7 linked regions of the Homo sapiens genome follow. The protein of the gene in region 5 purifies or fractionates together with the protein of the main gene of each other region. This does not show direct contact. Each region holds a gene or a part of one and is shown on either strand. Other genes may lie near its edges.

What was found.
Region 1: the proteins of VPS52 (region 5) and CIAO2A purify together in Homo sapiens (co-immunoprecipitation; one large-scale study listed by IntAct). This does not show direct contact.
Region 2: the proteins of VPS52 (region 5) and TBC1D15 purify together in Homo sapiens (co-immunoprecipitation; one large-scale study listed by IntAct). This does not show direct contact.
Region 3: the proteins of VPS52 (region 5) and VRK1 fractionate together in Homo sapiens (co-fractionation; one large-scale study listed by BioGRID). This does not show direct contact.
Region 4: the proteins of VPS52 (region 5) and EIPR1 purify together in Homo sapiens (affinity purification with mass spectrometry; 4 studies listed by BioGRID and IntAct, with this or other methods). This does not show direct contact.
Region 6: the proteins of VPS52 (region 5) and ZDHHC11 purify together in Homo sapiens (co-immunoprecipitation; one large-scale study listed by IntAct). This does not show direct contact.
Region 7: the proteins of VPS52 (region 5) and ARMC6 purify together in Homo sapiens (co-immunoprecipitation; one large-scale study listed by IntAct). This does not show direct contact.

The regions. Positions count from the first base shown.
Region 1 is NC_000015.10:64,083,334-64,087,799, forward strand, and holds part of CIAO2A (cytosolic iron-sulfur assembly component 2A), read right to left. Parts: intron 1-4,466. UniProt on the Homo sapiens protein: Component of the cytosolic iron-sulfur protein assembly (CIA) complex, a multiprotein complex that mediates the incorporation of iron-sulfur cluster into extramitochondrial Fe/S proteins.
Region 2 is NC_000012.12:71,894,833-71,899,298, reverse strand, and holds part of TBC1D15 (TBC1 domain family member 15), read right to left. Parts: coding exon 4,416-4,466; intron 3,353-4,415; coding exon 3,224-3,352; intron 2,623-3,223; coding exon 2,519-2,622; intron 1,453-2,518; coding exon 1,358-1,452; intron 1-1,357. UniProt on the Homo sapiens protein: Acts as a GTPase activating protein for RAB7A. Does not act on RAB4, RAB5 or RAB6.
Region 3 is NC_000014.9:96,859,632-96,864,097, forward strand, and holds part of VRK1 (serine/threonine-protein kinase VRK1), read left to right. Parts: intron 1-925; coding exon 926-1,104; intron 1,105-4,466. UniProt on the Homo sapiens protein: Serine/threonine kinase involved in the regulation of key cellular processes including the cell cycle, nuclear condensation, transcription regulation, and DNA damage response.
Region 4 is NC_000002.12:3,370,353-3,374,818, forward strand, and holds part of EIPR1 (EARP and GARP complex-interacting protein 1), read right to left. Parts: intron 1-4,466. UniProt on the Homo sapiens protein: Acts as a component of endosomal retrieval machinery that is involved in protein transport from early endosomes to either recycling endosomes or the trans-Golgi network.
Region 5 is NC_000006.12:33,251,637-33,255,151, reverse strand, and holds part of VPS52 (vacuolar protein sorting-associated protein 52 homolog), read left to right. Parts: intron 1-261; exon of another isoform or gene 262-454; intron 455-3,180; coding exon 3,181-3,292; intron 3,293-3,445; exon of another isoform or gene 3,446-3,515. UniProt on the Homo sapiens protein: Acts as a component of the GARP complex that is involved in retrograde transport from early and late endosomes to the trans-Golgi network (TGN).
Region 6 is NC_000005.10:833,021-837,486, reverse strand, and holds part of ZDHHC11 (palmitoyltransferase ZDHHC11), read left to right. Parts: exon of another isoform or gene 1-6; coding exon 7-122; intron 123-3,679; coding exon 3,680-3,714; intron 3,715-4,466. UniProt on the Homo sapiens protein: Endoplasmic reticulum-localized palmitoyltransferase that could catalyze the addition of palmitate onto various protein substrates and be involved in a variety of cellular processes.
Region 7 is NC_000019.10:19,046,442-19,050,907, reverse strand, and holds part of ARMC6 (armadillo repeat-containing protein 6), read right to left. Parts: intron 1-4,466.

The sequences.
Region 1 (4,466 bases), on a different chromosome or scaffold from region 5:
TGACCTCCAAACCCTAAGACCGTTCCCATTGGACCACAGCTGCCTTCAGCCATTCTTATCTGGAATAAGTCACCACAAATGATTATCAACTTGTTTCCCTGCCTTACCCTCTTGTTCCCTTGGAGTCTTCCTTGTCAATCACTTACCAAGGTAACATTGAGTAGGTGATACTCTTACTCAGGCACCTTTCCAGGCTAGGACTACCTGCTCTGGAGGAATATCTGTTAACACATCAGACAGACGAAGGCTTCTCTCAAGTTTTCCAGCTGTGTTGACTGAACAAAACTACTATGATACACTATTATACAATTCTCTAAAAAACCAATAGGCCGGGTGTGGCAGCTCACACTTGTAATCCCAGCACTTTGGGAGGCCGAGGTGGGCGGATCACTTGAGGCTAGGAGTTTGAGACTAGCCTGGGTAACATGGAGAAACCCCGTCTCTATTGAAAATACAAAAAATTAGTTGGGCATGGTGGCACGCGCCTATGATCCCAGCTACTTGGAGGCCGAGGCACGAGAATCGCTTGAACCCAGGAGGCAGAGGTTGCAGTAAGCCAAGACAGCACCACTGCTTTCCAACCTGGGCAACAGAGCAAGACTCTGTCTCAAAAAAAAATAAAATAAAATAAAATAAAAATAAAAAATAAAAAGCCAATGGTCTTAGCTGAAATGCATAACGAAAGGGCTAAGACAAAACTTTCTACAGGAAGTGTACAGATCTGAAATATCAACTATAATCTAATGTTAGCACCCTTACAGAACAGTTTTTATTTCATGCACTCTCCTGATATTTGTCCACGTACACATTTTTCTATAACTGCAATCATGATGCAATTTGAACTTATTCAAGCTTTTTCATGTTTTTTTTCTTTTTTAAGAGATTGCTGGTTTCAAACTCCTAGGCTCCAGTGATCCTCTCGCCTCGGCCTCCCAAAGTGTTACAATTACAGGTGTGGGCCACCACGTCTGGCGAATATTTTCTTCTATAAAATTAGTTCCTTAACTCCTGCGTCAAACAGTATAAACTTCCAGATAGGGATTTACCAATATATACCATGAGGCTTCAAAATACTTACATAATCTAACCCAATTATTCCACGTATAGGAATTTATCCTGATGCAATAATGAGATATATAAAAATATTTATATAAGGCCAGGCACGGAGGCTCACCCCTCTAATTCCAGCACTTTGGGAGGCCAAGGCAGGCGGATCACCTGAGGTTGGGAGTTAGAGACCAGCCTGACCAACATAGAGAAACCACATCTCTATTAAAAATACAAAATTAGCCAGGTGTGGTGGTGCATGTCTGTAATCCCAGCTGCTTGGGAGGCTGAGGCAGGAGAATCGCTTGAACCTGGGAGGTGGAGGTTGTGGTGAACCAAGATCATGCCATTGCACTCCAGCCTGGGCAACAAGAGTGAAACTCCGTCTCAAAAAATAAATAAATAAAAATATTTATATATAAAGTTGTTCGGTCAGGCGCGGTGGCTCACACCTGTAATCCCAGCACTTTGGTAGGCCAAAGAGGGCAGATCACTTGAGGTCACAAGTTCGAGACCAGCCTGGCCAACATGGTGAAACCCCGTCTCTACTAAAAATACAAAAATTAGCTGGGCTTGGTGGAGGATGCCTGTAATCCTAGCTACTCGGGAGGCTGAAGCGGAGAATCACTTGAACCTGGGAGGTGGAAGCTCCAGTGGCCACTACACTCCAGCCTGGCCAATAAAGTGAGACTCTGTCTCAAAAAATAAAATAAAATAAAATAAAATAAAATAAAATAAAATAAAGTTGCTCATCACAGTATTATTTATAATTGCAAAAGGCTAGAAGTAGTCCAAATGGTTACAAAACTTCTGATGTACCAATATGATTAGCATGTAACCTATAACTATATAATTAAAGAATATTTAATGATGGCCAGGTATGGTGGCTCATGCCTGTAATCCCAGCACTTGGGGAGGCTGAGGCATGAGCCCAGGAATTTGAGACCAGCCTGGGCAACATGGCAAAACTAGCCAGGCATAGTGGCACCTGCCTGAAGTTCTAACTTTTCAGGAGACTGAGGTGGGAGGATCACTTGAGCCCGGGAGGTGGAGGCTGCCTGCAGTGAGCCGAGATCGTGTCATTGCATTCCAGCCTGGGTGACAGAGTGAGACCCTGTCTCAACAACAAAAAAAATTTAAAAAAAGAAATATTTAATGAGAAAAATAATTCATGTATTTCATGCTATTACTTAACTCTTACGACTCTATAGATATCCTTATTATTCCTGTTTTACAGATAAGGAAACTGGGTCTTGGAAAGGTTAAGTAACTTGCCGAAGCCCACAATACGGTACAGCCAATAGACCTGGAATTTTAGCCCAGAGCATATATTCTTTTTTTTTTTTGAGACGGAGTCTCGCACTGTAGCCTGGGCTGGAGTGCAGTGGCGTGACCTTCGCTCACTGCAACCTCCGCCTCCCGGGTTCAAGCGATTCTCCTGCCTCAGCCTCCCACGTAGCTGGGATTACAGGCGCCCGCCACCACGCCCAGCTAATTTTTTGCATTTTTGGTAGAGACAGGGTTTCACTACGTTGGCCAGGCTGGTCTCAAACTCCTGACCTCATGATCTGCCCGCCTCGGCCTCCCAAAGTGCTGGGATTACAAGAGTGAGCCACTGCACCCAGTGACATTCTTTCATAATAGCTGGTTTTTTTCTTTATGTTTTTGTGGGGTATCAAAATTACTGCCAATAAACATGTTACTCATATAATTTAAATAAATGTTAATTTTAAAAATGAATTTGCTGGCTGGGAGTGGTGGCTCACACCTGTAATCCCAGCACTTTGGGAGGCCGAGGTGGGCAGATCACCTGATATTGGAAGTTCGAGACCAGCCTGGCCAACATAGTGAAACCCCATCTCTACTAAAAATACAAAAAAAATTAGCCAGGCATGGTGGCGGGCGCCTGTAATTGCAGCTACTTGGGAGGCTGAGGCAAGAGAATCGCTTGAACCTGGCAGGCGGAGGTTGCAGTAAGCCAAGATTGCACCATTGCGCTCCAGCCTGGGTGACAAGAGTTAAACTCCAGCTCAAAAAATAAATAAATAAATAAATTTGCTATAGGTTCTTGAACTCTCCATTTAAGAACTCTTTCTTATATGTCAAAATATTTTAAGACACCCCCTCCACAACACCCACAGCAGTACTTTCAGTATCTGTTCGTTCACAAATTGTCCAATGACCAAAAATAACCATGCATTCAGCATTCAGTAATGCTTTTTCTAGCAATGGGATTTTTTTTTTTTTTTTTGAGACAGAGTCTTACTCTGTTGCTTAGGCTGGAGTGCAGTGGCGCAATCTCAGCTCACTGCAACCTCCACCTCCCATGTTCAAGCGATTCTCCTGCCTCAGCCTCCCGAGTAGCCGGGATTACAGGTGCGTGCCACCATGCCCAGCTAATTTTTGTATTTTTAGTAGAGATGGGGTTTCACCATGTTGGCCAGGCTGGTCTTGAACTTCTGACCTCAAGTGATCCACTGCCTTGGCCTCCCAAAGTGCTGGGATTACAGGTGTGAGCCGCCATGCCAATGGGAATTTTTTTTTTTTGAGATGAAGTTTTTGCTCTTGTTGCCCAGGTTGGTGTGCAATGGCATGATCTCAGCTCACTGCAACCTCTGCCTCCCAGGTTCAAGTAATTCTCCTGCCTCAGCCTCTCAAGTAGCTGGGATTACAGGTGTGTGCCACCATGCCTTGCTAATTTTGCTTTTTTTTTTTTTTTTTTTTTTGGGAGATAAGAGTCTCGCTCTGATGCCCAGGCTGGAGTGCAGTGGTGCAATCTCGGCTCACTGCAAACTCCGCTTCCCGGGTTCACGCCATTCTCCTGCCTCAGCCTCCTGAGTAGCTGGGACTACAGGCACCCGTCACCATGCCTGGCTAATTTTTTATAGTTTTAGTAGAGACAGGGTTTCACCATGTTACCCAGGATGGTCTCCATCTCCTGACCTCGTGATCTGCCCGCCTCGGCCACCTAAAGTGCTGGGATTACAGGCGTAAGCCACCGCGCCCGGCCTAATTTTGTATTTTTTTTAGTGGAGATGGGGTTTCACCATGTTGGTCAGGCTTGTCTCAAACTCCTGACCTCAAGTGATCTACCCACCTTGGCCTCCCAAAGTGCTGGGATTACAGGTGTGAGCCACCACGCCCGGTCACCAATGGGATTTTAATAACCACAATAATACCTATGGATTCACAGACCTCCAGTCCCTCAAGATGTGGCCTATATGGTGGAAACCACCAGCAGAGGGAACCCAGGTCAACCAGTGAGAAAAGACAGAAATCACAATAGTGGAAATAATAACGAAATAGCGACCTTTTCAATCTTTTTTATAAACTTGTTGCTTTTTAATAGGTGAGATAGTCCCATGGTTTGAAAATGTAAAAACATAAAAAGGTATAAAGTCTCCCTCCCACCCTTTCCC
Region 2 (4,466 bases), on a different chromosome or scaffold from region 5:
CTACAGTATGTCTCAATTCAAATTACATTATGGGGACTTTAAATATCTAAATTTTCCTACCAGTCTCCTGGAAAGGATCAGAAAAGGACATGAAAGGTTGAGAATATCAGAGACATCAACATTGATCCTTGATATAAAGGGAAGAGGATATGGCATGCAGAAAGAAGAGGCTTAAAATACAGGTTTAGTTGACCTCTAACTTCCCTTCCAGTTCGAATATTTTATGCTCAAGCAGGAGTAAAACACCAGAATCCCTTATTGTTTTTCCTACTGAAACTGAAAATATCAAGAAGCTTCAGTTAGAAACTTTAGATTAAACTCCAAAACTCAGGACTCCCAAACTTTCGCCTTAATCAGAGAAAGGACAAAGTTTATTCTGGTATAATTTACATTTCAGAAAAATAAATTCTTTTTGGATCAAAAGTATCACTGCCAAAAAGATCTTGTTTTCATGTCCACAAACGGTACCAAATCAGCCTGTTACGTTGGGCTTTCTAAATATAATTTAAAAAATTATTTCTTTCATGGGAGGGTGTTAACAGCAGTAACAAATCCCTCTATCATTCTTTATGAAACCACGGATATACAAATCCAGATACAATATAGGAATTTCAAAACTAAGTTCCAGTACTATCCAATGCTATCCTAAAATTACAGAGACAGTGTAATAAGAACATTAAACTGGGACATGTGTGACCTTGGACAGGTCATTTATGTTCTCCATGCTTCAGTTTCTCATTTGTAAATGGAGATTATGAAATGCAACTAATGCTTTAATGATAAAATTCTATCAAGCATCTCTGTGTTTTAGAGAATAGTTATCCCCAGGTAAATATTCTATTTTCAAATACTAAATTTTATATCTGGAGTCATTTATTTAATTTTAAAAATGAAATATATGTATATTTAAAGAAGTTCTGAAGGGATATAAACCAATACCTATTAACCATAATTATCTCTGGGTGACAGAAACAAAAATAATTTCTATTTACCTCTTTTTGCTCATCTACAGTTAATTTTTCTACAATAAACAGACTTTCATAATAAAAAAGAAAATAAAGTTTTTTAAAAATGAAATTAATTCAAAAAGCAAATAAAGGTAAACAATCTTTTTAGAAATTCATACTTTGGAACTGAAAATTAAATATATCAACACTTATAAATAAACTTACTGAATTAATATGCCTATTGGAAGAGGAACAACAAAGAACATTAAACACACACTGCAATGTACTTTCCTATTCTGATTTCTCTTTTGAGCCCTAGTGCTATTACCATGTATCTTCACTTCTTTACTCTTATCAAGATTTCAATGTAATCCCCCCTTGCATTTCCAAAGTTGTTAAGAAAAAATTACCGATAAGACTTCTATAATCTCTTAACCTCGAATTTCTTTTCTCTTGTTCCTGGCTGATGGATTTCCACTGCAGTTTCATTCTGAAGTATTCATCACTATAGAAAACAATTTGACATCAAAGAAAGCTATTTGAAAACTTTATTTTTAACACTGTTTAATTGGGTTTTTCTATAAACAGTATATCAAAGCATTTATGATGCTAGTGGAATGTAAGTTTATAAAAACAATAGCAAAACGTTTAAAGTTATGATAAATAAGTGAAAACAAAAGAAAAAAATAACCGATAAATATCACAAAGTTTATGTGATAAACTTTGTTCAACTACTAGAATAATTTTAGGTATTCTTTTACAAAAACATTTATCTCATCCTTAAAATCATGTCTAAAAGTATTCTAGTCATGAAATATTTTAACCACTAAAGTTTCCAAATAATTGTAAATACAAATCTAAGTGACTTTTTTTTTAAAAAATGTGACATTATAGTTCCATTTCCAAGCAGTTTATTGCAGAAACTAGTTAATGTAAAAATGTCTTAGAAGAACTGGTAAACAAGCTGAAAAGAGAAGACTGTCAGATAACTTAAATATGCACATAATGACTGAAAATAGCTTTAAATCAAAGGCTAGACTGACAACTGAGAACAAGAAGTTGTACCTGGAAAGTTGGTCTGTGTTTCCTTTCAAGTCTGAGGAATAACTTAAAATAGAAATACTCTTCCAAAAAGAATGAAGGATCCATTATAAGAGTATCAGAAAAGTAACTTAAAGGTAATTAATCTAAATAGCAAATATATTTCTTATGAGCCATTTATAATTTCATAATGAATTATAAAAATGAATCAAGATGAATGAGAGATGTTTTTAAGTGTATGTCTACGTAGTTATCTTTCAAGTATGCAAAAGGCTTGTACAAGGCTTATATAAGGGAATATGTTTATCTTCTTTTTACATATTCACAAAAATAAATGCAAAAAGGTGCTTCTAGTAAGTTTCTGATTTAAAATAATTAGAATGCTCATAATTTTTAAGTTAAAACATAAAAATGAAGTTGTTTTTCCATTCCCCAGTCTATTCCAAATCCTCATCTAGAAACCCTATACTAATTTGTATGAGTGGGTTACTTGAATCTCTTTGATAAATGTACGAAAGACCATTACTTACGTTTTTTGCTTTTGTAATTGGGTTCTTTCCTCCTTGGTACTGTCCCAGGGAAAATAACCCAGAAGAAATTTCCATGCTTGCTTTCTCAATGCATGACTAAGTCCCTGAAGAAAGCATACATATTAAATACATGAATGAAAAAGAATGTAATACTGTAAGTTCACAAAACTTGCATATAAAAAGGAAAACTAATCTTTAAGAGGTAGTTTCATATATGTAAATAGTTCAATTCAGTGAATATCATCTTGTTTTTTACTTCTAGATCCAAAAGATGTAAGCAGCTGCCAGAAAGTTTAAACAGTGCACAGAATACAGTAGACTACAGAATACAGTAGACTACAGCAGACAGACAGTGTGACTGGTGAGTCTAAGCCCAATCTTACAGAATAAGGCAAATGCCACTGGAATGCAGGCCTCCTTCACAAAACCCACAGAACTTCAAGTACGGAAGAATTCTTCCCCCAGAGTTAAGGGTCTACCCAACCCCCAGGAACATCATAAGCACCTCACTCTGTCCTACTCAATCCAGGAATTTTAAGGCATCATTCATCAAAGAAATAACAGAGTTCATTCCTCCCTACTTCCCCCACCAAAAAAAAAAAAAACCAACAACAAAAAAAAACACACCAAAACAGTAACGATAACAACAAAACCCCTAAATACTAGGAGTTTATAAGACAAGCCATATTAGAGTGTTTAAATTACCCCTCTAAATATCATCTGCTTCATATTATCTACATTTAAAATTCTTCCTTCAGAATCAATGTTCTTAGTCCATTCTTCCAGTGATACCGGTTCTCTCCTTTGAACAACAGGGCGTTCCCCCAAATCAATCTAAAAATAAGATTAAGCAATAATAAGTACATATTTAACCAGTGAAATGAAATAAAGGCATATAGAAACTAAATTTAAAATACTGTTTTTCAGACATGACTTCTAATACTTTTAAGATTGTTCCTTATTTTCCCATGTTTAGTTTAACTATAATAGTTAGCATTACATGTATTTCCCTTCTACTAAACACACAACAAACTGGGTTATAAATTCAGAAACAGAAAACCCCACAGACTAAAAATATTTGTTATTAAAAGAAAGCTCTTTACTATTTTGGGTTCAATTATGTAAGTATAGAACATTCAACATGTAAATTCTGTAAGAAACCTTCAAACCAAATGATATGCTGTATTATTTAAAAAGAGAGAATATATAATTATTCCATTAATCATATTCTAAAAATTAGCTTTTCTTCTAAAGTTTGTATTTCTCAGAATTGATTCATGACCCACTAGCTTCACTCGGCATTTTCTATAGTGTTTTATTCAATTAACAGATGTTGGTAATTTTAAAATAGTATTTGCAAGATAAACCCTTTAATTAAGCACTAAAATTTAGATATTTATAGTTTTCTAACTATGTACAAGCCTAGAATTGTAGCAAATTTAAATCTTACTGAGCACATATAAAGATCTGCCATAATTCAGGCCAAAACCCATCTTACTTAAAAAAGGAAGTATTACATGAGAATAAAAGCCCTAAAAGTAGTATCCTGACTAGCTGTCTCTGATGCCTATGAGAAAACATGCAAGTAAGGAACAGAACTAAGAGGTAATAGGAAAGGTTCGCTCCTCACTCTGCTATGCACCCAATGAAACAAACTTCATTATCAAAAGGTAATCAAAGAAGAGAGATCCAACATTAATCAAGAAAGAGTATAAGATAGAGAACAAATGAAGAACTTAGTGGCAGGACAAGCACTCATTGTCAGATATACTAGCAAAAAGTTGTTAAGAACAGATTATGGAAAGAAGCAGATATCACCAAAATTAAGTTTCTATTTCTATAGTACATGTTCTCCTGTTAAAATATAAGAGCTATATTAATACTAATCTTTACTCACTCTTGTGATGACTTCAAATCCTGGTTCTTCTTGTTGATTTATCTTTAGACC
Region 3 (4,466 bases), on a different chromosome or scaffold from region 5:
TTAATGAATGTGTGTATATATGCACACGCTTGTGTGTGTGTGTGTAGAACTGATAAGATCTCTTGAAGGACTGGTGTGAGAAGAAATGATTCAAGGGTGACTAACTCAGATTTTGGCTTGAGGAGCTAGAAGGATGAAAATCTCAGTAACTGAGACAGAGAAAACCTCAAGTTTTAGGGATAGGTCAAGAGTTTAGACGTGGGTTTGTTGGAATTAATGGTGATATTTACACATCCAAGGACCAGTATATGAAATGATGGATATACAAGTCTGGAGGTCGGGGGAAAGGTCTGTGTGTGAGTCATTAGCTCAAAAATGAATTTTTAATATTGAGAAGTGTTGATCTTGACTAGTAGGATTTCTTTTTTATGGTGTGGTTCTGTCTAAGTGTACAGTACACTTTTATCATTTGGAAGCTGATTTTTCTCTTTTATAGGAAAGCCAGATCTTATTTCTTTCTTCTTTCTTTGGCCTCTTTTTGGTGTGTTTTATTTCTCATTTACACGAAGAATATAGCTATCTGCTATAGAGCTAATGGCTTTGATGGCAAAAACATATTGGCTATGATATTCATTGTATTTAAGGACATTTTACTTTCTAATCTTTATTCTAGATCCCTTTGTATTTTTTTATAACTTTAATACTATAATAGTTATTTTTATGAGTATTTACATTTTAAGTTGTCTTGTTTCTCACAATTACAAAAAGTGTGTTTTACATTGTATCTCAAAATACTTTTTAAATTTCAGTTATCTGACAATTCCTGAGTTCAAAAGCATACTTTTCATTGAAGTGATTGAAAAAAATAGGTATCTTAACAAGATGTGTATTTGCATTCTAACTTTACTATAACCATGAATTATTTTTTTTAGAGGTTAGAGAGAAATATATTGAAAGTTATAAAATGATTGTGTTATTCTTTTAGGTGAAATTGCCAAATACATGGAAACAGTGAAATTACTAGACTACACTGAAAAACCTCTTTATGAAAATTTACGTGACATTCTTTTGCAAGGACTAAAAGCTATAGGAAGTAAGGATGATGGCAAATTGGACCTCAGTGTTGTGGAGAATGGAGGTTTGAAAGCAAAAACAATAACAAAGGTGAATTTTGTTATTAAATTATTCTTTGGTCTTCTTGTGTTTATAATTGCAATAAATACTAAAAGAAAGTATAGCAGTAGTTCAATGAAGAACAATAACAGATTGCATGGCAATTAAGGCAAACATTTTTTGTAATACAGAAAATGTGTAGAGGGTTGTAGAAAAATAAATATTTATATATTTCTTATGTTTAGTAGCAAGTTACTAAATTCCTGAACTGATTTTAACTTGGAATACTGATATCTGACAGGGAAATTTTGATGGTGCACTGAATTCATAATTTATATGTTCTTTTCTCCCAAGTCACCACTTAGGGTTCATCTTGTCTTGGTTGTTTCTTATTTGTGGATATGGTCAGAGTATTTACCAGTTGAAAACGGGCATTTGAAAAATTACCATTTGAAAATTTCCTTGTTTGTTGGTGTGGTGCATTTTACCATTTGAACATTATTTTGCTCTGTGAAGAAATATTATATAAAGCTATATATCAGCATATAAGGGGATTAATTGTTTGGAGAGAAATGTTAAATAATGAACTTTATGGTAGAAGTATTATACAAGCATGTAAAGAACTTCTGGCATCACTTTAGATTTTACAGGTATGCATTAACTTACTGATTTGCTATTGATTATTTTTGATAATTAACTTACTGATAAACTTACTGATTTCCCTTATAATCTGAAATTATTTAATACAATGTGTTAGCTATTTTTATATGAGGAAGGAAAACAACTTTTAGAAGAAAAATTTTTTTTACATTATTAACCATTTTTACTGTCATTAACTTTGCAAATTCTAATAGATTTATTTGGAAATCTCGTATTCCAAACTGAGAAAAAGCGTTAAAACAAATTTTTCTCTCTTTAAAATCAGACGCAGCACATTGAAAAGTTTTTATCTTTTCAATTAACAAAGGAGATAGGAATTTTGAAATTGGACCAAAAATTTAACTTTGCCAAATAGCAGGTCTCTGTAATTTCATCATAGAATCTGAAATTATATACATGCATCTACATATACTTTTTTTTCTTTGATAAGTTTTATCTTAATTGCATCTGCTCCAGTTTTGTGGTCAACAAGTGTGCTGAAAACTGTATCTGTTTGAAATGAAGAGGGTAAAATGGAAGCCTGAGTGGAATTTTTTAGTAAGGTATTATAGTAAACTTACTCTTTGCATACATGCATAAACAAGCAGCATGTTTCTTATTGCTCAGGATAGATTTCTCTGCGTTAATATTTATAGGTAGCTTGTATAGTGTTTTTCTCTAAAATTTTGGTGATTGAGAAGTAAAGATCTCTGCTGCTATGTGAGAACTTGTCCAGAGCAACCACCTCCCTCCGCCCAACCCCCATCCCCCTGTCCCCGCCCCTACCTTCCTTTGCAAATCCCTTTGTTGTTTGGACTTACATGCTGGAGAAAATGTAGTTTCTGCAGGTTGGCTGACTTTACAGCTGAGTAGGTCAGTCTGCTGCAGAGCTAACATCTGTGACCTTATAATTCTGTGGTGTCCTTGGATAGTTCAGAAGGCTGGAAATTTCCTGTTGGATCATCCCTGACATGTATAAAGCTTCATTTAGGGGAAAAAAATGAATACTAAGTTGAACAAGTTGAACTATTAGGAGATTTATTTCATTAGTTTACTACTTTTTGTACACTCATTGCTGACACAGGGTTATTCTTTGTATTAAAAAGAAATTAATAAAAGTTAAGGTTAGGTAAGATCATGAGCTGCTTGATAGCCATGTAACTGAAGTGAGTTATTAATTTTGTTAGCTTTTTTTTTTTTTGTAAAGTGAAAGAACTGGACCAGACCAGTTTTTTTTCAAGCTTTTCTTTTAAACTGCAGAACATTTTCTTCATATAATTTGTAAATGCTGTCACTGAAAACAGATAAAAGCAGAGCTCTGCTGGATGAGAAGTTGGGGGCTCCCTGCAATGAAAAGCTTTCTCCTTTGAGAAACTAGCTTGCTGCCTCTGTTTTTCAGCAAGATCTATAACCCAGATGTCTTTTTTTGCTCTGGATGTCAGGAGGCTCAAAACTAAATATGATGCTTAGTTCTAGAAACTGTTAATTTTAATAATTAGTACATTTGTTTCCTCTCTTTTCGTTTGTCATAATTTTTGAAAGTGTGAAGTATATTTTCTGTGTATATATCAGACTCAGATCTCTTTTGGAAAGGGGTAGGTTTAATCAGTTTAATATATGTTTGTATTTAGGTTCCTAAGAAATATTCTTTTTGGTAAAAACCTACAGGAATTGATGAACAGTGGAATGAAGCAAGGTTTCTTGTCTATGTTTTTGCAGCCATGCTTGATTATGGTGCAGTATATTTGGAAACTAGAGTGAAACATGAATTTACCCACTTGGAAATGTTTTCTGCTTAATAATCAAGGAGCTTTATTTAAAGCATAGAATTTTGGGATGACATAAGGCTGAAGGAGAACAGAGAGATCAAGTATACATCTGCCCTTAAAAAGTACAAAGTCAAATATTTTTATTGTTGATTAGAACTAAACATTTTCAGTTTTTAGAATCTGGCAGTACAGTGCAACAGTTATTGGATTCAGTGTATACTCATAAATTAACATTCAACAATTACATAAAAAGTCTAGTTTATGTACCTGATCTAGGCTAGGTCTCTAGGGCTACGGAGATCAATGACATGTGGTCCCATTCTTAAAGAATTCCTTCCTGTTCCATCTGGGTTAAGAACAGCTTAATTTACTGGAAAGAGCTCAGCAAGTTAAAAGGACATTAACACTTCCATGAACTATTTTAGGGTTTTAAGTTGCCTGCCTAAGTCAACAAAAAGGGTTGTTGACTGGAATCTCATCCCTGGAAAGTCGTTGAGTAAGGTCTAGATCATGGCCTTGCAATTTGTATTTTAGTTTTTCATTTTCAGACAGCCTATATTGTTGCTCCCTATGAATGATTATTCACATACCTTTCTTTCCTTCTCTATTTTACCTCCTAATTTTAAAATTTTAAAATTTTATTTTTCTGGCTGCATTATGCTAATTGGTCTTTCTAGAGTTTCTCTTATTTAACCATTGTTAAATAAACCCTTGCTGGCATTTAGCCTGGAACAGGGTACAAAGAGTTGAATAAGTGCAAAGCCCTTCCATTGCAAATCAGTAGCCTGCAGCTGCTCCGGTGGACAGCTTTCTTCCTTTCTTTCTGAAGGGATTGCACCTCGTACAGCCTTTATACCATTGTAGCCTATAGTTTCAGTCGGGTTGCCCTGAATGTGCTCTAAATTTGGTGAAAATCTATCTAGCTGTTTTAGCCTGATACGGTAATAAAGATAAACTGTATTTTAATTATATAAATTTTAGATTGTTGAAGTACATTCCTGTTTT
Region 4 (4,466 bases), on a different chromosome or scaffold from region 5:
AGTCCCTCACCAGCAACGGAACAAAGCTGGACGGAGAATGACTTTGACGAGTTGAGAGAAGAAGGCTTCAGACGATCAAACTACTCCGAGCTACAGGAGGAAATTCAAACCAAAGGCAAAGAAGTTGAAAACTTTGAAAAAAATTTAGACGAATGTATAACTAGAATAACCAATACAGAGAAGTGCTTAAAGGAGCTGATGGAGCTGAAAGCCAAGGCTCGAGAACTATGTGAAGAATGCAGAAGCCTCAGGAGCCGATGCGATCAACTGGAAGAAAGGGTATCAGTGATGGAAGATGAAATGAATGAAATGAAGCGAGAAGGGAAGTTTAGAGAAAAAAGAATAAAAAGAAATGAACAAAGCCTCCAAGAAATATGGGACTATGTGAAAAGACCAAATCTGCACCTGATTGGTGTACCTGAAAGTGATGGGGAGAATGGAACCAAGTTGGAAAACACTCTGCAGGATATTATCCAGGAGAACTTCCCCAATCTAGCAAGGCAAGCCAACATTCAGATTCAGGAAATACAGAGAATGCCACAAAGATACTCCTCGAGAAGAGCAACTCCAAGACACATAATTGTCAGATTCACCAAAGTTGAAATGAAGGAAAAAATGTTAAGCGCAGCCAGAGAGAAAGGTCGGGTTACCCACAAAGGGAAGCCCATCAGACTAACAGCGGATCTCTCGGCAGAAACTCTACAAGCCAGGAGAGAGTAGGGGCCAATATTCAACATTCTTAAAGAAAATAATTTTCAACCCAGAATTTCATATCCAGCCAAATTAAGCTTCATAAGTGAAGGAGAAATAAAATACTTTACAGACAAGCAAATGCTGAGAGGTTTTGCCACCACCAGGCCTGCCCTAAAAGAGCTCCTGAAGGAAGCACTAAACATGGAAAGGCATAACCGTACCAGCCGCTGCAAACTCATGCCAAAATGTAAAGACCATCGACATTAGGAAGAAACTGCATCAACTAACAAGCAAAATAACCAGCTAACAGCATGACAGGATCAAATTCACACATAATATTAACCTTAAATGTAAATGCACTAAATGCTCCAATTAAAAGACACAGACTGGCAAATTGGATAAAGAGTCAAGACCCATCAGTGTGCTGTATTCAGGAAGCCCATCTCACGTGCAGAGACACACATAGGCTCAAAATAAAAGGATGGAGGAAGATCTACCAAGCAAATGGAAAACAAAAAAAGGCAGGGGTTGCAATCCTAGTCTCTGATAAAACACACTTTAAACCAACAAAGATCAAAAGAGACAAAGAAGCCCATTACTTAAGGGTAAAGGGATCAATTCAACAACAAGAGCTAACTATCCTAAATATATATGCACCCAATACAGGAGCACCCAGATTCATAAAGTAAGTCCTGAGTGACCTACAAAGAGACTTAGACTCCCACACAATAATAATGGGAGACTTTAACACCCCACTGTCAACATTAGACAGATCAACGACACAGAAAGTTAAAAAGGATACCCAGGAATTGAACTCAGCTCTGCACCAAGCGGACCTAATAGATATCTACAGAACTCCCCACCCCAAATCAACAGAATATACATTTTTTTCAGCACCACGCCACACCTATTCCAAAATTGACCACATAGTTGGAAGTAAAGCTCTCCTCAGCAAATGTAAAAGAACAGAAATTATAACAAACTATCTCTCAGACAACAGTGCAATCAAACTAGAACTCAGGATTAAGAAACTCATTCAAAACCGCTCAACTACATGGAAACTGAACAACCTGCTCCTGAATGACTACTGGGTACATAATGAAATGAAGGCAGAAATAAAGATGTTCTTTGAAACCAATGAGAACAAAGACACAACATACCAGAATCTCTGGGACACATTCAAAGCAGTGTGTAGAGGGAAATTTATAGCACTAAATGCCCACAAGAGAAAGCAGGAAAGATCCAAAATTGACACCTAACATCACAATTAAAAGAACTAGAAAAGCAAGAGCAAACACATTCAAAAGCTAGCAGAAGGCAAGAAATAACTAAAATCAGAGCAGAACTGAAGGAAATAGAGACACAAAAAACCCTTCAAAAAATTAATGAATCCAGGAGCTGGTTTTTTGAAAGGATCAACAAAATTGATAGACCGCTAGCAAGACTAATAAAGAAAAAAAGAGAAGAATCAAATAGACGCAATAAAAAATGACGAAGGGGATATCACCACCAATCCCACAGAAATACAAACTACCATCAGAGAATACTACCAACACCTCTACGCAAATAAACTAGAAAATCTAGAAGAAATGGATAAATTCCTCAACACATACACTCTCCCAAGACTAAACCAGGAAGAAGTTGAATCTCTGAATAGACCAATAATAGGATCTGAAATTGTGGCAATAATCAATAGCTTACCAACCAAAAAGAGTCCAGGACCAGATGGATTCACAGCCGAATTCTACCAGAGGTATAAGGAGGAACTGGTACCATTCCTTCTGAAACTATTCCAATCAATAGAAAAAGAGGGAATCCTCCCTAACTCATTTTATTAGGCCAGCATCATCCTGATACCAAAGCCGGGCAGAGACACAACCAAAAAAGAGAATTTTAGACCAATATCCTTGATGAACATTGATGCAAAAATCCTCAATAAAATACTGGCAAACTGAATCCAGCAGCACATCAAAAAGCTTATCCACCATGATCAAGCGGGCTTCATCCCTGGGATACAAGGCTGGTTCAATCTACGCAAATCAATAAATGTAATCCAGCATATAAACAGAACCAAAGACAAAAACCATATGATTATCTCAATAGATGCAGAAAAGGCCTTTGACAAAATTCAACAACGCTTCATGCTAAAAACTCTCAATAAATTAGGTATTGATGGGAAGTATCTCAAAATAATAAGAGCTATCTATGACAAACCCACAGCCAATATCATACTGAATGGGCAAAAACTGGAAGCATTCCCTTTGAAAACTGGCACAAGACAGGGATGCCCTCTCTCACCACTCCTATTCAACATAGTGTTGGAAGTTCTGGCCAGGGCAATTAGGCAGAAGGAAATAAAGGCTATTCGATTAGGAAAAGAGGAAGTCAAATTGTCCCTGTTTGCAGACGACATGATTGTATATCTAGAAAACCCCATTGTCTCAGCCCAAAATCTCCTTAAGCTGATAAGCAACTTCAGCAAAGTCTCAGGATACAAAATCAATGTACAAAAATCACAAGCATTCTTATACACCAATAACAGACAAACAGAGAGCCAAATCATAAGTGAACTCCCATTCACAATTGCTTCAAAGAGAATAAAATACCTAGGAATCCAACTTGCAAGGCACATGAAGGACCTCTTCAAGGAGAACTACAAACCACTGCTCAATGAAATAGAAGAGAATACAAACAAATGGAAGAACATTCCATGCTCATGGGTAGGAAGAATCAATATCGTGAAAATGGCCATACTGCCCAAGGTAATTTATAGATTCAATGCCATCCCCATCAAGCTACCAATGACTTTCTTCACAGAATTAGAAAAAACTACTTTAAAGTTCATATGGAACCAAAAAAGAGCCCTCATCGCCAAGTCAATCCTAAGCCAAAAGAACAAAGCTGGAGGCATCACGCTACCTGACTTCAAACTATACTACAAGGCTACAGTAACCAAAACAGCATGTTACTGGTACCAAAACAGAGATACAGATCAATGGAACAGAACAGAGCCCTCAGAAATAATGCCGCATATCTACAACTATCTGATCTTTGACAAACCTGACAAAAACAAGCAATGGGGAAAGGATTCCCTATTTAATAAATGGTGCTGGGAAAACTGGCTAGCCATATGTAGAAAGCTGAAACTGGATCCCTTCCTTACACCTTATACAAAAATTAATTCAAGATGGAATAAAGACTTAAACGTTAGACCTAAAACCATAAGAACCCTAGAAGAAAACCTAGGCATTACCATTCAGGACATAGGCATGGGCAAGGACTTCATGTCTAAAACACCAAAAGCAATGCCAACAAAAGCCAAAATTGACAAATGGGATCTCATTAAACTAAAGAGCTTCTGTACAGCAAAAGAAACTACCAACAGAGTGAACAGGCAACCTACAAAATGGGAGAAAATTTTCACAACCTGCTCATCTGACAAAGGGCTAATATCCAGAATCTACAATGAACTCAAACAAATTTACAAGAAAAAAACAAAAAACCCCATCAAAAAGTGGGCAAAGGATATGAGCAGACACTTCTCAAAAGAAGACATTTATGCAGCCAAAAGACACATGAAAAAATGCTCATCATCACTGGCCATCAGAGAAATGCAAATCAAAACCACAATGAGATACCATCTCACACCAGTTAGAATGGCAATCATTAAAAAGTCAGGAAACAACAGGTGCTGGAGAGGATGTGGAGAAATAGGAACACTTTTACACTGTTGGTGGGACTGTAAACTAGTTCAACCATTGTGGAAGTCAGTG
Region 5 (3,515 bases):
TAAGTCCAGACCAGTACTCCTATAGGAATATAATGCATGCCACAAATGTGAGCCACTTAAATAATTTTAAATTTTCTAGAAGCTACATTAAAAAGTAAGGAGAAACAGATGAAATAATTTTTTAAACCACTACATCCAAAATATTATTATTTCAACATATAATCAATAAAAAATAGTACTGAGGCCAGCACGGTGGCTCACACCTGTAATCCCAGCACAGGCCAAGGCAGGGAGGATCGCTTGAGCCCAGGAGTTTGAGACCAGCCTGGACAACATGGTGAAACCCCATCTCTACAAAAAATAAAAAAAAAATGAGTGGGACATGTTGGCACATGCCTGTTAGTCCCAGCTACTCAGGAGGCTGAGGTGGGATAATCACTGAGCCAGGAAAGTTGAGGTTGTAGTGAGCTGTGATTGTGCCACTGCACTCCAGCGTGGGTGATGGAGCAAGACCCTGTTTCCGAAAAAAAAAAAGAAAAAAAAGATATACTTAAAATTTATTCTAAGATGAAGTCTTCAAAATCAGGTGTATATATCATGCTTACAACACATTATATAATTTATGGCTCCTGCCTAGCAGGGGTCATCACTGTTAGTTCAACTTTTCTTTGGCAAGTCTACTCCCTGTGCCCCACCGTACACTGCTACATTATTGTTTGTATATGTGTGTGTGAGACTGCATTTAGGCAACTGTAATAGGTTGAATTTGGTTATTTAATCTCTGTCCAAAATCACATCACAAAGATGCCTTGATTATAGAAAGATCCTTCCTTGCAGCATATTAGTTATTTGACACCCTCAGTGGATATAAGTGAATATTTTGAGGGAAGAATAGAAAAGATACAATTTTTATTTATTTATTTATTTATTTATTTACTGAGACAAGTTGCTGCTCTGTCGCCCAGGCTGGAGTGCAGTGACATGATCTTGGCTCACTACAACCTCTGCCTCCCGGTTCAAGTGATTCTTCTGCTTCAGTCTCCCTGAGTAGCTGGGGTTACAGGCATGCACCACCACACCTGGCTAATTTTAGTATTAATAATTTATTTTTAAATGGAATAATAATTTCACTTTCTTCTTACCAGATCTTTCTGTCTGGGTTGTTTGCTTTTATGAGTTTTTTTGTTTGAATCTCCCTTTTACATTAAACAAAAATTAACATTTTATTATGGGAAATTTCACTATGCTATTAGAAAAGCATAGTGAACCCCCAGGCATCATCAGTGATATTCGGTGTATAGCAGTTCACGGACAGTTTTGTTTCATCTATACCAACACCTATTGCTTATCCTCCTTCTGTGTCCCCCAGTTACTTTGAATTAAATCTTATACATATACAGATGAATATTATCACTTCATCTGTATCAGAATGTTATTTTTATTAAGAAAATTATTTTTGAGATAGGGCCTTGCTGTAGTGCCCAGGCTGGAGTGTAGTAGCATGATATAACTCCCTGCAGCCTCGAACTCCTGGGCTCAAGTGATCCTCCCACCTCAGCCTCCTAAGTAACTGGGACTACAGGTGTGTGCCACCACACCTGGTAACAGATGGTTTTAAAAACTACAATACATTATCACACTTAAAAAAATTATCTTATCTAAAATAACTATTCAGATTTTCCCAGTTATTTCATAAGTGATTTTTTTTTTTTTTTTTTTGAGACACAGTTTCACTCTTGTTGCCTCCAGGCTGGAGTGCAATGGCCCGATCTTGGCACACTCCAACATCTGCCTCCCGGGTTCAAGCAATTCTCCTGCCTCAGTCTCCTGAGTAGCTGGGATTATAGACACCCACCACCACGCCCAGCTAATTTTTGTATTTTTAGTAGAGACAGGATTTCACCATGTTGGCCAGGCTGGTCTCAAACTCCTGACCTCAGGTGATCTACCCGCCTCAGCCTCCCAAAATGCTGGGATTACAGGCATGAGCCACTGTGCCTGGCCTTCATAAATGATTTTTATGGTTCAAATCAGGATCCATATAAAGTCCATATATGTGTCTTTTTTTAGTCTATAGATTTCCCTTCCATCTCCTCTGCAATTTATTTTTGGAAGAAACTGAGTTATTGAGTCATTTGTCATCTAGAATGATGTACAGTTTAGATTTTGCTGACTGCATTCCATGGTGTGGCCAAACTTCCTCTGTCTGGTGTATTTCTCATAAGTGTGTAATTAGATGGAAAGGCTTGGTCAGATTTAAATTAGTTTTTTTTTTTCTACAGGGATATTTGAGAGGTAGTGGTATGTATTTCCATCAGGAAGCACATAATGTCTTCTTGGCTCTCTTTGTGATGTTAGTAGCCATCAATTTCAGTGCCTAGATACATTAATTAGATTTCTGTATCTCCTACTATCTCAAAATTTTCCATCTTCTGTCTGTGCTACATTCTGAGTCCTTTCTTCAGTTATAAATTCTAATTCATTGTATAATTCTTGTTAATCTGTTGACTTTCTAAAACTGGCTTTTCATATCTAAAAAAATTTCCTTTTTTCAAGTCTGTTCATTCCTCATAGTTCTTACTAATTGGTCATTTTTACATCCTTTTTTTTTTTTTTTTTTTTTGAGACGGAGTCTTGCTCTGTCATCCAGGCTGGAGTGCAGTGGCATGATCTCTGCTCACTGCAACCTCCGCCTCCCAAGTTCAAGTGATTCTCTTGCCTCAGTCTCCCGAGTAGCTGGGATTATAGGCATCCACCATCATGCCCAGCTAATTTTTGTATTTTTAGTAGAGATGGGGTTTCATCATGTTGGCCAGGCTGGTCTTGAACTCCTGACCTCAGGTGATCTGCCCACCTCAGCCTCCCAAAGTGCTGGGATTACAGGCGTGAGCCACTGTGCCCGGCCTATCCTTAACTTTAGACATTGCACACAGTACAACTGCTATCCGTATCGGATAGTTCTTAAGGTCAGCAGCTATTGCTTATTGTGTCTGCTGACTCTCTTGGTAGCTGCCCTTCTTTTGTGTCTAGTGATCTTTGAGTTCATTGTTTGATCTTAACCAGGGGAACTGTATGGGCCAAAATTAGGATTGAGGATATTTTTCTCCATAGAGGATTTTCCTTAACTTTTGCAGCAGCTGAAAGATGCCATTCAGATGGATCTACATTAGTCATGATGCCAGAATTGGGCAAATCTGCTGACACCAGGACACCTGTGTATATGTGTTTGTGTCTTTCCAGGAATTCATTGAAGAGTTGCTGTCTCCCCCTTTTGGGGGTTTAGTGGCATTTGTGAAGGAGGCTGAGGCTTTGATTGAGCGTGGACAGGCTGAGCGACTTCGAGGGGAAGAAGGTATGAGGAAAATATGGTAATGATGGGATCAGTGGTAAGGGAAGTGGAAAAGAAAAATGAAAGGATGCAGATTACATGGTGGGGGAATAGAGTATGAAAGACTGGATTGAGAGAATACCAGAAAAGAGGGTTTGATGATAAGGATGGCTATACCTTGGGGAGAACTTAGTGGAGTTGAAGATCAGCCAGATCCCTCTCTGACACTGTTTCCTCCTGCTATTAG
Region 6 (4,466 bases), on a different chromosome or scaffold from region 5:
TTCCAGAGGCCAAGAAGATGACCACCTTTGAGTATCTCATTAATAACCGCAAAGAAGAGAGTTCAAAACATCAAGCAGTGAGGAAAGATCCATACGTGCAAATGGACAAAGGAGTTCTCCAGGTACCACCTGTCTCTCTGCTCCATTTCTCCAGGCCTGGGACAATGTCTAAGGTCACTCGGTGGTTGGGACCTCTCAGCCATGCTCCTTTACTTCAGGGCCGATGCAGCCCATGGACTCTGCTGTGTGTGTGTCTGTGTGTGAGGCTCTGTGCATGGGTGTGTCTATGTGTCTTTGTGAACATAAACACCAGTCATGCACCACGGACTTCCTAGTGCAAAGATAGGAAAGGAACTGAGTCTCCTGGACATTTCTATACTGCACGATACATCTTCCAAAGTTGAAATGTGCTTTTTGCATCTTTTTTTTTGAGACAGAGTCTCGCTCTGTTGCCCAGGGTGGAGTGAAGTGGTGAAATCTCAGCTCATTGTAGCCTCCACCTCCTGGGTTCAAACAGTTTGCCTACCTCAGCCTCCCAAGTAGCTGGGATCACAGATGTATGCCACTACGCCCGACTAATTTTTGTATTTTTAGTAGAGATGTGGTTTTAACACGCCAGGCTGGTCTCAAACTTCTGGCCTCAGGTGATCCGCCCGCCTTGGCCTCCGAAAGTGCTGGGATTACAAGCATGAGTCACTGTACCTGGCCTGAAACATGATTTTTAACTTAAGGAAGTTAGTTCCCTTTCCGGTTAAGTGACATGAATTATTATAACTAACTCAAGAAGACATAGAAAGTCTAAATAGACATAGAACAGCCAAGAGACTAAACTACTAATTTAAAATCTCCCAGTGAAGAAAAATCCCAGGCCCTGTAGTCTTCATGCATGAATTCCAGCAAAGATTTAAAGAAAAAATACAATACAACCTACACACAGACTCTTTCAGAAAACAGAGAAGGAAGCAACACTTCCCAACTCATTCAGCAATGCCACTATCAACCTGACACCAAACCAGATATTCATAAGCCAGTACATTCAGGAAACACAGGCAGAGATCACTGATAAGACCTTGGGAAACCAAATCGAGCAGCACGGGGCAGGAATGTGCACTGTGGCCAAGTGATATCACTCCAGGGGTAAGCAGTGGCTTAAGGCCTAGGAATCAATTACTACAGCTCAGCACGTTAGTCCAATAGAGAACGGTAACCACGCAATCATGCCAATCAATGCAGAAAAGGGTTTGTTAACAGCAAGTTCCCATTCATGATTTTTAACAAATCTCAGTGACCTAGGAATGATAGGAAAGCACCCTGTGTACCTGACGTGACATTTACTGGTGAAAGGCTTGTGACCCTCTCTTGGAGGCTGGGCACAGGTGATGACGCCCTTTCCTCCTACTTCTGATATCACAGTCACATTCTGGCCAGCCCAGCATAGCAGGGAAAATGAAGGCACAGAGAATACAAAATAAAACTGTGTTTATTTGCAGACAATGAAACCTAAAAAGTATGTTTTAAGACCTAGTTAAGATAATTAAATCACTTAACAAGGATGTGGGGCACATATTAAAATACACGCTCGCACATCTCTATCCACCAGCAATGAAAAATCCGGGTTATATTTTTAAAACTTCCTTTCATAGTCTAATAAAAAAAGAATAAATTTGACAAACCTTATGCAAATATGTACACTGAAAGCTACACACCATGACTGAGAGAAGTCAGAGACGCTCTATTAAGTGAAAAGGTGTACAGCATTCATAGATTGGAAAAAAATACTATTAAAAGGGCAATTTTCCCCAAAACTTATCTACAGATTTACCACAATCCCTGCTGAACCCCAGCAGGCTTCTGTTTTAGCAGAAATGACAAGGTGGTCCTAAAATGTATATGCAAATTCAAAAGACCTAGGCTACTGTACTAGCCAAATGATTTTGAGAAAAAATAAAATTGGAGAACTTACACAACCAGACTTTAAATGTTACTATAAAGCTGTAGCACTAAAGACAGGTGGCGCTGACAGAGAGAGAGACATAAAGCTACAGTAATAAAAACAGTGTGGCACCGACAGAGACAGATATAGAGAAATGGACCAGAAGAAAGGTCCAAAGTTAAAGCTTTCATTTATGGTCAATTGACTTTAAATAATGGTACTAAAATCATTAAATAGGGAGAAATTATAGTTCAACAAGTGGTACTAGAACAATTGGATATCCACATGGAAAAGAAAAAAGAATGATTGAGTTCTTCATACCTGTACAAAGATTACCCAGGATCACTTCATTCGCCACGGAAGAATTAGCCCCAAATCCATCTGACACCTAAACTTAAAAGCTGAACATAGAACACTTCTAGAAACAAGCATAGAATGAAATCTCTGTGATCTTTAGTGAGACAAAGCTTGTCTTTGATCTGACACCAAAATCACTGCCTATTAAAGAAAAAAATCATAGTTTGGACTTTACCAAAATTGAAAATATTTGCTCTTCAAAAGTCACCATTAAGAAAATAAAAATACAGGCACACATGAGAGATACTGCAGGTTTGGTTTTAGAAAGCCACAATAAAGTAAACATGTCAGTAAAACAAGTCACATGAATTTCTGGTTTCCCAGTGCTTATAAAAGTTACGTTTACATGACGTGTGCAACAGCATTATGTCTAAAAACTATGTGTCTGAATTAAAAGTGCTTTATTGCTAAAAGCTGCTTACACAGACAATTGAAGTGAGCACACACTGCGGGGAAAATGGCGCCGACATACTTGCTTGACCAGGGTCACCACAAACCCTCAATTTGTGAAAAAACACAGTATCTGTGAAGTGCAGTAAAGCAATGCACAATAAAGCCAGGTGTTCATTCCTGTGCAAGCCACAGGCAAACAAAATATTTTCAAGTCTTAGACTGATGTCCAGAATACACAAAGACACAAAGAGCTTTCAAAGTGCAATTGTAAAAAAACAACAAACAAAAACATAAACAAACAGAAAACTCAGTTTTTCAAATGGGCAAGAGGGCTGGACACAATGGGAAGCACCTATAATCTCAGTGCTTTGGGAGGCCAAGCAAGAGGATTGCTTGAGGCCAGGAGTTCAAGACCAGCCTGAGCATCTCTACAAAAATAAATAAAAATACATACATACATATAAAAAATGGGCAAAAGATTTGAACAAACTCCTTACCAAGGTAGATGTAGATGTATAGATATATGGATGCCACATAAGCACATGGAAAAAAATGCTCAACATCATTCTACATCAGGCAGCTGCAAATAAAAACCACAATCAGATACTACCACACACCCAGGAGAATGCTTGTCATCAACAAGACAGACACCACCGAGGGTTGGTGAAGTTGTAGAGAAATTGCAAGTCTCCTGCGTTTTTTTGCTAGTGGGAGTTAAATGAGGGTGTAAAGTGCCACCACACTGGAAAGCAGTTTGGCATTTCTTTAAAAGATAAATGTCTAATACATGACCAGAATCCCACTCCCAGTTTCTCACCAGAGAGAAATGAAAACACGTGCACACGTAAGTGGTTCTGAGATCTGAACTCAGGACCCAAGAGAACTCCAGGTACCATTCCTCAAAACCCAGGAATAATAGACGTCACTTTTATGTAAGAATCAGCTGCATGTCAACAACTTCTTTTTTCATGTGACGAATTTTCTTTTGCCCCACAGCAAGGAGCTGGCGCCCTGGGCTCATCTGCACAGGGGTAAGTTGCAAGCTTCCTGCAGTAGCTTGGTCCTTCTGAAGAATAGCTGTATTCTTTTCTTAACTCAAATGACTTTGGAAAATAATTCACCTATGATGAGACATTTTGAAATCATGGGATGATGCAGTAGAAGATAAAATAGTTTTGTTTAATGTTGTTAAATTATACCAAATTATCTATCTCGATGTGCTTGTCTTACTTGCAGAAACTACATTCTTCACTCCCTTCTTCATAACTAACATCTAAACTAACACACAAGAGTAAGATCCGCTTATTTATTTCTACATCTCTCCATGAACATGTGGGTAGTTGTGAGTCTGAATGTATTTCTTATGATCTCTAATAGTGTTTCATAGACATTGTAAGCTCTGAGAGTCCAACCCATTCCTGAGTCAAGGTGCTAAGTAAATGGGAGCACTGGGGGTGCCTTGACCCGGAGCCCCACCCAACAGGGCCAGGGCTGGCTTCACAAACAGGGTTTCAAGAAGCGTCTTGGAGCTAGTGCTGTGCAGTGCGGTTCGTTTTATTTTGGAAGCTGAGAGTCAAAGGGCACGCGCATTTTCAGTCTTCACAGACTCTTTCTGATGACTTCTCAAAAGGGTGGAGCAGTTCACACTTCATTCAACGCTGTCGCTCTTCTCACTATGAGATACTAACAGTATGCTTAGTTTTATTCAAAGAAAATATATAATGTTTTAATATGCATTTCCTTACTACAATTACGACAACATTTTTTCATGTTTTGACCATTT
Region 7 (4,466 bases), on a different chromosome or scaffold from region 5:
TGAGCCAAAGATGAATCTGTGAGCCTGAAGTGTAGGAGATTATTTGCCCTCAGACTGAATCAGGGTGGTTCTACAGAAACCACCAGCCCAAAGGGCTTTGATTTGGCATTGACTGACACGAAAAACAAAGAAGCCTATGGGATAATCCTCACTGAGCTCAGATTTGTGGACCTAAGTATATGTTACAATGCAACAGGATATTTAAAAAGGTAAGTTTTTGCTAAAATGAGATTAGAACTGAAAAACAAAAAACAACAAAAATTAAGTTAACACCAGTGTGCATGACTAGAATAGACATTACTACAAAGAATACATACAAATGGCCACTAATACATGAAAAGATGCTCAATGTCACTAATCATTAGGAAAAATGCAATTCAAACCTACAGAGAAGCCAGGCGTGGTGGCTCATGCCTGTAATCCCAGCATTTTGGGAGGCCAAGGCAGGAGGATCACTTGATCCCAGGAGTTCAAGACTCGCCTGGGCAACATACGGAGCATTCATCTCAAAAAAGAAAATCAAACAGAATTACTGTGTGACCCATCAGTTCCACTTCTGGGGATACACTCAAGAGAACTGAAAGCACAGTCTCAAAGAGATACCTGTACACCCATGTTCATAGCAGCATGATTCATCAGAGCCAAGAGGTTGGAGGTTGCAGGGAGCTGAGCTCGTGCCATTGCACTCCAGCCTGGGCGACAGAGAGAGACTCTGTCTCCAAAAAGAAAAACAAACAAACAAAAAAACACTACAATGACAACAAAGAAATTCAGGCACATAGTATGCTATGGATATACCTTGAGGACATTACGCTAAGTGAAATAAGACAGTCACCAAAAGACAAATACTGTGATTCCATTTATTTAAAAAAAATTTTTTTTTTTAGATGGAGTCTTCCTCTGTCACCCAGGCTGGAGTGGAGTGGTACCATCTCAGCTCACTGCAACCTCCACCTCCTGGGTTCAAACAATCCTCCCGCTTCAGCCTCCTGAGCAGCTGGGACTACAGGCATGTGCCACCACGCCCGGATAATTTTTGTATTTTTAGTGGAGACAGGGTTTCACCATGTTGGCCAGGCTGGTCTCTAACTCCTGACCTCAAAGTGATCTGCCCACCTCAGCCTCCCAAAATGCTGGGATTACAGGCATAAGCCAGGGTGGCCAGCCTGTGATTCCATTTATATGAGGTCCTGGAGTAGTCAAATTTGCAGCAACAGAAGGTAGAATGATGGTTGCTAGAGGCTGAGGGGAAGAGGAACATGGAGTTTGTTTCAGTATCGCAAGTCATGGATAGTCATGATGGTTGCACAACATTATGAATGTACTTAATGACACTGAACTCTACATTTAAAAATGGTTACAATGGTAAATGTTTTTATGCACATTTTACATAACAAACAGCGGTGTAGCACTTCAGCAGAAACCCTGTAAGAAACTTGAAAAGCTCCTGACAGAAATGCCTTTGAGGATGCACAGTATTGGAGTTAGAACTACCAAGATTTCACAAGGAATTACTAAGTTAGCAAGGATGTGTAAACTAAAAATAAAATTCTTGGCCGGGCATGGTGGCTCATGCCTGTAATCTCTTCACTTTGGGAGGCCAAGGCAGGTGTATCGCTTTGAGCTCAGGAGTTCAAGACCAGCCTGGGCAACGTGGTAAAACCCTGTCTCTAAAAAAAATACAAAAATTAGCCAGATGTTGGTGGCTCACACCATGTAGTCAGCTACATGGGAGGCTGAGGCTGAAGAATTGCTTGAGCCCGGGAAGCAGAGGTTTCAGTGAGCTAAGATCACACCACTGCACTCTAGCTGGGGAGACCCTGTCTCAAAAAAAAAAAAAAAAAAAAATCTAAGTCCTCATCCATACTAAGGACCCCTCCTCTTGGCCAAAGGTATTCCAAAGGTAACCTGAAAAACTACTTCAGGTCATGATGGGAAGTGGCGGTCAAATATGTCTCATTTTATCTTCCTGCCTTTGGAAGTCAGACATAACTGATCATCGTAAGACTTTTTTGTAGCAATAAGACACCAAGTTCCAGCCTAACTAATACAGTATGGAAAGAAATCAAAGTATTTTACCCTAAAATATATTTCTCTGACATATTTTGAAATGGCCCTGCAAAGCTATCTCTTGTGGGGAAAAGCTACATTCTACAGAGATTCCCTTTCCAGGTCTTTTCCCTGATTCAGGAGAGAATTAACTAAGAGTCTGGCACCTTTTTAAGTCTGATAAGAAATATTTACAATCTATTTTCTCTGAAGCCTGCTACCTGGAGGCTTCCTTGATAAACCCTTGATCTCCACAACCCGTCTTAAGCAAAATATTCCTTTCTATTGATTCTAGGTCTTTAGATAACTCTTTCAATCAGAAAATCTTTTTTTTTTTTTTCTGAGTCTCATTCTGTTGCCCAGGCTGGAGTACAGTGGCATGATCTCGGCTTACTGCAACCTCCGCCTCCTGGATTCAAGTGATTCTCCCGCCTTAGCCTCCCAAGTAGCTGGGATTATAAGCACCCACTACCATGCCCAGCTAATTTTTGTTTTTTGTTTTTTGTTTTTTTGAGATGCAATTTCGCTCTTGTTACCAAGGCTGGAGTGCAATGGTGCAATCTTGGCTCACTGCAACCTCTGCCTCCCGGGTTCAAGCAATTCTCCTACCTCAGCCTCCTGAGTAGCTGGAGTTACAGGCACCTGCCACCATGCCCGGTTAATTTTTGTATTTTTAGTAGAGACGGGGTTTCATCATGTTGGCCAGGCTGGTCTCGAACACCTGACCTCAGGTGATCCACCTGCCTGGGCTCCCAAAGTGCTGGGATTACAGGTGTGAGCCACCACACGTGGCCTAATTTTTGTATTTTTTGTAGAGATGGGTTTTGCCATGTTGGCCAGGCTGGTCCCAAACTCCTCAGCTCGATGCAATCCGACCACCTCAGCCTCCCAAAATGCTGAAATTACAGACGTGAGCCACAGCACCTGGCCAGAAAAATCTTTAAATGTGTCTATGACCTGGAAGCCCCGGCTTTCAGCTGCCCTACTTTTCCAGACCACACCAATGTACGTCTCACATGTATTGATTGATATCTCATGTCTCCCTAAAACGTATAAAACCAAGCTGTAGCCCGACCACCTTGGACACATGTTCTCAGGAGCTCCCGAGGCTGTGTCATGGGCCTTTGGTCACTCATATTTGGTTCCGAATAAATCTCTTGAAATATTTTATAGAGTATTTTCATTGACAGATGGTTGCTAAAATGCAGGTGGCAGAGCCAGCTGTGTTCTACCTATGACAATTTTCTGTGGCGCTCACCACCTTGCTCATGGAGGGGGGCTTTACCCATTGACTCCTGGAGTCATTCAGTCTCTGTGACTAATGCCTTTCATTCTACAACTTCCCACATATAAATGTGGCCTGGCTGGCTCAGTTTTTCCCTGGACAGTCTCCAGACATTATTTTCCTTCTGTTTCTACAAGCCTGTTTGCAACAAATCTTATGACACAAACAGATTAATTTCAACGACCATCACAATGTTGAATTTTTTTCTCCCTCAACAGATAAGCATTTTTTACACATCTAAGCCAAGATGCACAAAGGTCAATTATGCTGCAGGGCATTTGAGAAGGGGGTTGGTTCAGTTGCGAACTGACCGCTGAGATGCAAACCCCAGTGTCTGGTGGGAGGGACAAGGCAGGGACTTTCAGATTTTACTATAAATGCTTGAGTATTGCTTGAATCCTTTATGCTAAGAATGTATTTCCACTCTTCCTTAATGAAAAATAAAATTTAAAATTAGCCAGGCATGGTGGCAGGTACCTGTAATCCCAGCTACTCAGGAGGCTGAGACAGGAGCATCACTTGAACCTGGGAGGTGGAGGTTGCAATGAGCCGAGATCCTGCCATTGCACTCTAGCATGGGTGACAGAGTGAGAGTTTGTGTCAAAAAAAAAAAAAAAAGAAATAGAAAAAGAAAAAAAAAAAAAAACAGGTGAGCATGTTGGCTCACACCTGTAATCCTGGCATGTTGGCAGGGCAAAGTGGGAGGGTCACTTGAGGGCAGGTGTTCAAGATCATCCTGGGCAATATAGCAAGATCCCATCTCTACAAAACAAAAAATAGGCTGGGCATAGTGGCTCATGCCTATAACCCCAACACTTTGGGAGGCCGAGGCAGGCAGATCACTTGAGGTCAGGAGTTCAAGACCAGCCTGTCCAATGTGGTGAAATCCCATCTCTACTAAAAATACAAAAATCCGCTGGGCGTGGTGGTGCACGCCTGTAATCCCAGCTACTCGGGAGGCTGAGGCAGGAAAATTGCATGAACCTGGGAGAAGGAAGCTGCAGTGAGCTGAGGAAGGGCCACTACACTCCAGCCTGGCCAACAGAGTGAGACTCCATCTCAAAAAATAAATAAATAGGCTGGGCGTGGTGGCTCACACCTGTAATCCCAGCACTTTGGGAGGCCGAGGCAG